Linked DNA regions of Homo sapiens: region 2 is linked to region 1. The links come from fine-mapping of genetic effects on gene expression. A gene starts in region 1. The other region holds a variant in brackets. All regions are shown on one strand. Distances are between the middles of the regions.

Evidence for each region. PIP is the estimated chance that this variant, and not a neighbour inherited with it, causes the effect.
Region 2: its variant is fine-mapped to the expression of LINC01219 in prefrontal cortex (CommonMind, PIP 0.95).

Annotation. Positions count from the first base shown.
Region 1 is chr11:1,989,640-1,992,543 of GRCh38, reverse strand. LINC01219 (long intergenic non-protein coding RNA 1219) reads right to left here and starts at 1,448. Exons shown (of 3, transcript NR_126400.1): 1 at 1,285-1,448; 2 at 264-606. It overlaps MRPL23-AS1 (MRPL23 antisense RNA 1), which reads left to right and starts at 2,624. Exons shown (of 4, transcript NR_024471.1): 1 at 2,624-2,718. It also overlaps a transcript of MRPL23 not described here. RefSeq lists enhancers at 735-2,904, 735-2,904.
Region 2 is chr11:1,900,862-1,903,765 of GRCh38, reverse strand. LINC01150 (long intergenic non-protein coding RNA 1150) reads right to left here. Exons shown (of 4, transcript NR_120534.1): 2 at 1,042-1,176; 3 at 510-662. It also overlaps a transcript of PRR33 not described here. Among named protein-coding and RNA genes, the nearest start is that of LINC01150, 5.6 kb to the right of the region's middle. The variant G/A (reference allele first, on the strand shown) is at 1,650.

The DNA.
Region 1 (2,904 bases):
CAGGGAGACCCTGAGGGTGCCCTGGCTTCTGGCCACGTCCCAGACCCTGTTAGGCACCGAGGTCTTCACACCCAGACCCTCCACCCACCCAAGTTTCTGCGGCACGTTTAGGTTGAGTGAAGACCAAGTCATCCAGTTAGAGAAGAGGACTTGAGGCGCGTGCTGCTGCTGTGGCCACGCTGGACCCTCGGTGCACGCATCTCCTGGCGAGTCCCCTGTGGCTCTGTGGGCCGTACACACCCGGGGCACGCGACCTCAGCTACCTTGTCACCGAGGACGTGCATCCACAGCTGTGCGTCTGTGCCTGGGAGCGGGGTCTCCACTTGGTGGGTCTCTGCATGCTGACCAGTTAACCCGCCTTTCCGGGCTGTGGAGGGCGTGGGTCCTGTCCGGCCCGGAGATGCTCCGCGGGGTGTGTGTGTGATCGTGGCCCTGTAGCGGGGTGGTGTTCCCTGGAGGGTGGACCCCTGAGCCTGGCTGTGTGTGGCTGTGTCTCAGCATGAATTCCGTGACCCAGGAGCACGTTTTCAGGCAGGGATTAGGGGCAGCTGGGTGTGGGAGGCAGGCACTTGGTATACCACCGAATGGAGACAGAAAATCCCAACTCTACGAAGGAAGTGAAGTCCCTTCAACAGGGACAAAGCGATGTTTTGGGTCTGACTACAATGCACCCTGGGAAGTCTCAAAGAAAACAGTCGGGGACTCAAGGAGGGCAGCCCCCTCTCCCCGACCCCGAGCTCCCAGGAAGATAAATGATTTCCTCCTCTCTAGAGATGGGGGTGGGATCTGAGCACTCAGAGCCAAGGGCGCAGTGGGTCCGGGCGGGGGCCCTCCTCGGCCCTCCCAACATGGGGGCCAGGAGGTCAGCCCCTCAACCTGGACCCCGGCTGGGTCTCAGGGAATGGTCTCCCCCAGTGGCCCAGCTTGCTTGTGTTTTCAGATGGGTGTGCACGGGTGTGTGTGTGTGTGTGTGTGTGTGTGTGTGTGTGTGTGATGCCTGACAAGCCCCAGAGAGCCAAAGACCTGAGTGGAGATCTTGTGACTTCTCAAAAGGGGGATTGGAAGGTTCGAGAAGGAGCTGTGGTCAGCCTTGCTCTCCCTTAAGGCTGTGGTAACCACACTAGGCATAGCATAGGCCTGCGCCCCGTCCCTCCTTCCCTCCTCCGCGCCTCTCCTTTCTCTTTCTCCCCCCTCTACCCCGCTCCCTGGCCTGCTCCTGGTGACACCGTTGGCCCCCTTCCAGGGCTGAGGGAAGCCAGCGGGGGCCCCTTCCTGGAAGCCCACCTGCAGGCCGGCTTGCTGGGAAGGGGCTGCTCTCGCAGAGGCTCCCGCCCGCCCTGCAGCCGTTTCCTGGAAGCAGTCGCTGTGGGTATTCTGTTCCTTGTCAGCACTGTGCTTGCAAAGAAAGCAGACACTGTGCTCCTTGTCCTTAGGGAGCCCCGCTCCATCACCCAACACCTGGCTGGACACAGGCGGGAGGCCGGGTCCGCGGGGAGCGGCGCGGGGCTGGGGCCGGACCAGTAAACACACACGGGCGCCAGGCACTGCAGGCTCCTCCTCCTCCTCCTGCCCAGCGCCTCTGCTCACAGGCACGTGCCAAGCCCCTAGGCCAGGAGGCCCAGCAGTGGGTGCAGAGCAAGCTCCTGGGAAGGGGGTGCAGGGCGGACCCCCGGGGAGAAGGGCTGGCAGGGCTGTGGGGGACGCTGACCGTGGGCCCCACGTTGCAGAAAACTGGCTGCCTGGCTGGAAGATGGGGGAGATGCCAAGCCTCTGAGGCAGCACGAGCAGGGTGCATGGAGGCCGGGGCGCGGGGAGGCTGCACTGCAGCATGCACCCCAAAGCCCAGAGGGAGTGGAGACCAGGCCCTGGAATCGAGAAGTAGAAAGGCGGCTTGGAGGCCTCGGAACCGGCTGACCTCCAACAGAGTGGGGCCGGCCCTGGAGGCAAAGAGGTGCCCGGGGTCCGGCCCTGCCTGGGGGAGCTATGTGTCATGGGCAGCCACAGGATATGTAGCCAGCTCTGAGCATATGGACCCAGGGCAGGGCTGCAAGGCAGGGCAGGGGAGACAGACGGGGGAGCAAGGAGCAGAGAGGGGGCCTCAGGCTCTCCCAGGAGGAACATTCTCCCGACAGGAGGAAGAGACGGCCCAGGGGTGACTGTGGGGAGCCATGGTGGCAGCTGGGGTCGTGGCAGATGGGAGAGAGGCTGGCGAGGTGAAGGTGCAGGGGTCAGGGCTCTGGGGCCCACATGCCTGTGGGAGCGGGCAGGCCCAGGGCTCTCCGCCACTCCCCACTCCCGCTTGGCTCATAGGCTGGGCCCAAGGGTGGGGTGGGATGAGCAGGAGATGGGGCCCAGGGGGCAAGCAGGGCCCCAAAGACATTTAGAAAAACCGGTTTATGCAGGCAGCATTCAGAGCAGGCGGCGTGCGTGGCGGGGGCCCTGGGAGCACAGAGAGGCACACGTAGGGCCCCCGAGGGTCTCCCCATTGGCCGGCAGTGACATCACCCCTGTGTCAACAGTGATGTCTGCAGCTCCGGCCAGCCAGGGTTTATGGAGCGAGACCCAGCCCGGCCTGGGCCCTCACTCCCCAGGCCCACACACTAGCCCACTGTTCAGGGTCCGGGGTGGCAGCATGGCCTGGGGGTCCTGGCACCGCTGCTCCTCTGCCCACCCTAACTTCCCGGCATGGCGGCTGCCCCCTCTGAGCGTCCCCAACCAGTAAGTGTGGGGCCAGCAGGCCTGCCGTCCTCCTCCTCTTCCCTCTAGAGAGAAACGTGGAGGTCCTGGGGCTGGGGGCGCTCATAGCCCTGTGACACAGGTGCATGGGGTCAGGGGTCCCAGAATGGCCCCTGGGAAGGACCTCAGCTGGGCCGGCGGCTCTAGGCTTCAGGGGTCTGTCTGCAC
Region 2 (2,904 bases), 89 kb after region 1:
TCTAAGAGCCAAAGCCAAGATTTAATGTAAAATGGGATCCTTCATCTCTGAAAAACCGAGCACCTTCTGGCTCGTATGTCCGTACGTGTTAGGTCCCGGACGCGGCAGATGTTTACAGAAATGGTGGCATCTTACTAAAGGTGAATGAAAATTACGGTGGGATGTTCCAAGTGAACACCACTGCACTTTAAGAAGTGCACCTAAAAACAAGGGCTCCTAATTAGCCTCATCAGGGATGCCAATTGATGTGAAGAAGCTTCTAAAATGATTTCAGTATTTTTACTCCCTCTTTTAAAAGTGTCTGCACAAAAGGCAAATGAGGCCTGGCAAGGTGGCCCATGCCTGTAATTCCAGCACTTTGAGAGGCCAAGGTGGGAAGATTGCTTAAGCCCTGGAGTTTGAGACCAGCCTGGGCGATACAGTGAGACACCCGCCCCCCACCCCCCGCTCCACAGCTCCCCACTATCTCTACGGAAAAAAAAAAATTAGCCAGGCACGGTAGCACTCACCTGTAGTCCCAGCTGCTTAGGAGGCTGAGGCGGGAGGCAGAGGCTGTGTCTGAGGCGTGTGAACCAGAGCGACTCCATCTTGAACAGGGGCTGGGTAAAATGAGACTGAGTCCTACTGGGCTGCATTCCCACATGGTCAGGCATTCTAAGTCACTGGATGAGACAGGAGGTCGGCACAAGATACAGGTCATAAAAACCTTGCTGATAAAACAGGTTGCAGTAAAGAAGCCGGCTAAAATGCACCAAAACCAAGATGGTGACGAGAGTGACCTCTGGTCGTCCTCACTGCTACACTCCCACCAGCACCATGACAGTTTACAGATGCCGTGGCAACGTCAGGAAGTTACCCTGTATGGCCTAAAAAGCAGGGGTGGGGGGCATGAGTAATCCACCCCTGGTTTAGCATCTCATCAAGAAATAACCAAAAAATGGGCAACCAGCAGCTCTCGGGGCTGCTCGGTCTATGGAGTAGCCATTCTTTATTCCTTTACTTTCTTAGTAAACTTGTTTTTGCTTTGCGCCGTGGACTCACCCTGAATTCTTTCTTGCACAGGATCCAAATCCAAGAACCCTCTCTTGGGGTCTGGATCAGGACCCCTCTCCTGTAACAATTGCAGTGAGCTATGATGGCACCACTGCACTCCAGCCTGGGTGACAGAGCAACACCCTGTCAAATAAGATAAAGACAAAATAAGATCATAAATATAAATTAATTAAGACAAAGAAAAAGCTTAAGTGACCAATTGATAAGAAAAAATGAATCTGCTGAGCTTTTGGCCTGGTTACTATCCCATACAGAAAGCTATCCTAGATGAAGTGTGTCTAAAAGGTCTCTCAGATCCAGCAGGCTTTACTTCAGATCCACCCACGCTGAGCCCAGGCCGAGGGAAGCCTTTCTTTGCCTTATTCCTTAATGGGTCCCACCCTGTACTCAGTAATTTCAGCTAAGAAGCAGTAGCCACATTAGAAGGACCACCTATCCACAGGTTGGTGTGAAAGTAATTGTGTGTTTTTTTTTTTTTTTTGAGATAGAGTCTCACTCTGTCGCCCAGGCTGGAGTGCAGTGGCGCGATCTCTGCTCACTGCAAGCTCCGCCTCCCGGGTTCAGACCATTCTCCTGCCTCAGCCTCCCGAGTAGCT[G/A]GGACTACAGGCGCCCGCCACCACGCCCGGCTAACTTTTTGTATTTTTAGTAGAGACGGGATCTCACCATGTTAGCCAGGATGGTCTCGATCTCCTGACCTCATGATCCACCCGCCTCGGCCTCCCAAAGTGCTGGGATTACAGGCGTGAGCCACCGCGCCCGGCCATAATTGTGGTTTTTGCAATTACTTTTCAACCAGCCTAATAACTAAAATGCACCTTTCTGACATTCAACGGCTACCTTGAAACCATTTTGTGAAAGAAATTTACATCTCCACAAGACATTTCCATTTGCAACGTCTGGGAGGGACATCCCTTTGTTTTAAATTTACGTAACAAGTCTTACCTTTGTTTAACGTGTTTTTCCTGGCCATGTTGTCTTCACTGGGCCTTGCTTTTTTCTTGGTTGAGCAAATGATGATGGTACAGTATTTAAGCTGAAAGTCTCAGCTTAAATAGCTTTTCATATATACATTTTCTGCCTTGTTTCACCTAAGAGTTATCTTTTTTGAAGGCAAATTGTTCCCTAGCTAACGATTGCTTAGGATGATAAAACAAGTAATTAGAAGATTGATAGTCTAAAGGGGGAAAAGAAAACTATTTGAAAGCTGGCAAATGAAAATTCTTTCTGAAATCTGTAAGATCTGTTTCTATCTGTGTCTGTTATGACTATATGTCTCTCTGTATGACATGTATCTGATAATATTTAGGAAAAAGCTGAAACCACCTTTGCATTGTCTCTTTGACTGAGACGGTGAGAGACATCTAACTTAATTGACTCCATCTTGCCTTTTTTTTTTTTTAGAGGTGGTGTTTTGCTCTTGTCGCCCAGGCTGGAGTGCAATGGCGTAAACTTGGCTCACCACAACCTCTGCCTCCTGGGTTCAAGCGATTCTCCTGCCTCAGCCTCCCAAGTAACTGGGATTACAGGCATCTGCCACAACGCCCGACTAATTTTGTATTTTTTTTAGTAGAGATGAGGTTTCACCATATTGGCCAGGCTGGTCTGGAACTCCTGACCTTGTGATCTGCTCACCTCGGCCTCCCAAAGTGATGGGGTTACAGGCGTAAGCCACCGTGCCTGGCCCTTCCATCTTGCTTCTAACCTCCTTGCTTATTCCTGTCCTTGCTTATTCCTGGGAGTAGGCTGAACTAACTTTGGGAGAAACTTAGTTTATAGTTTAAAACAAAGACGATAACAGCCTTTCCCAGTGGAGAGAGCTACTAAGGGCCCCTATAGTATCCAAAAAAGAGA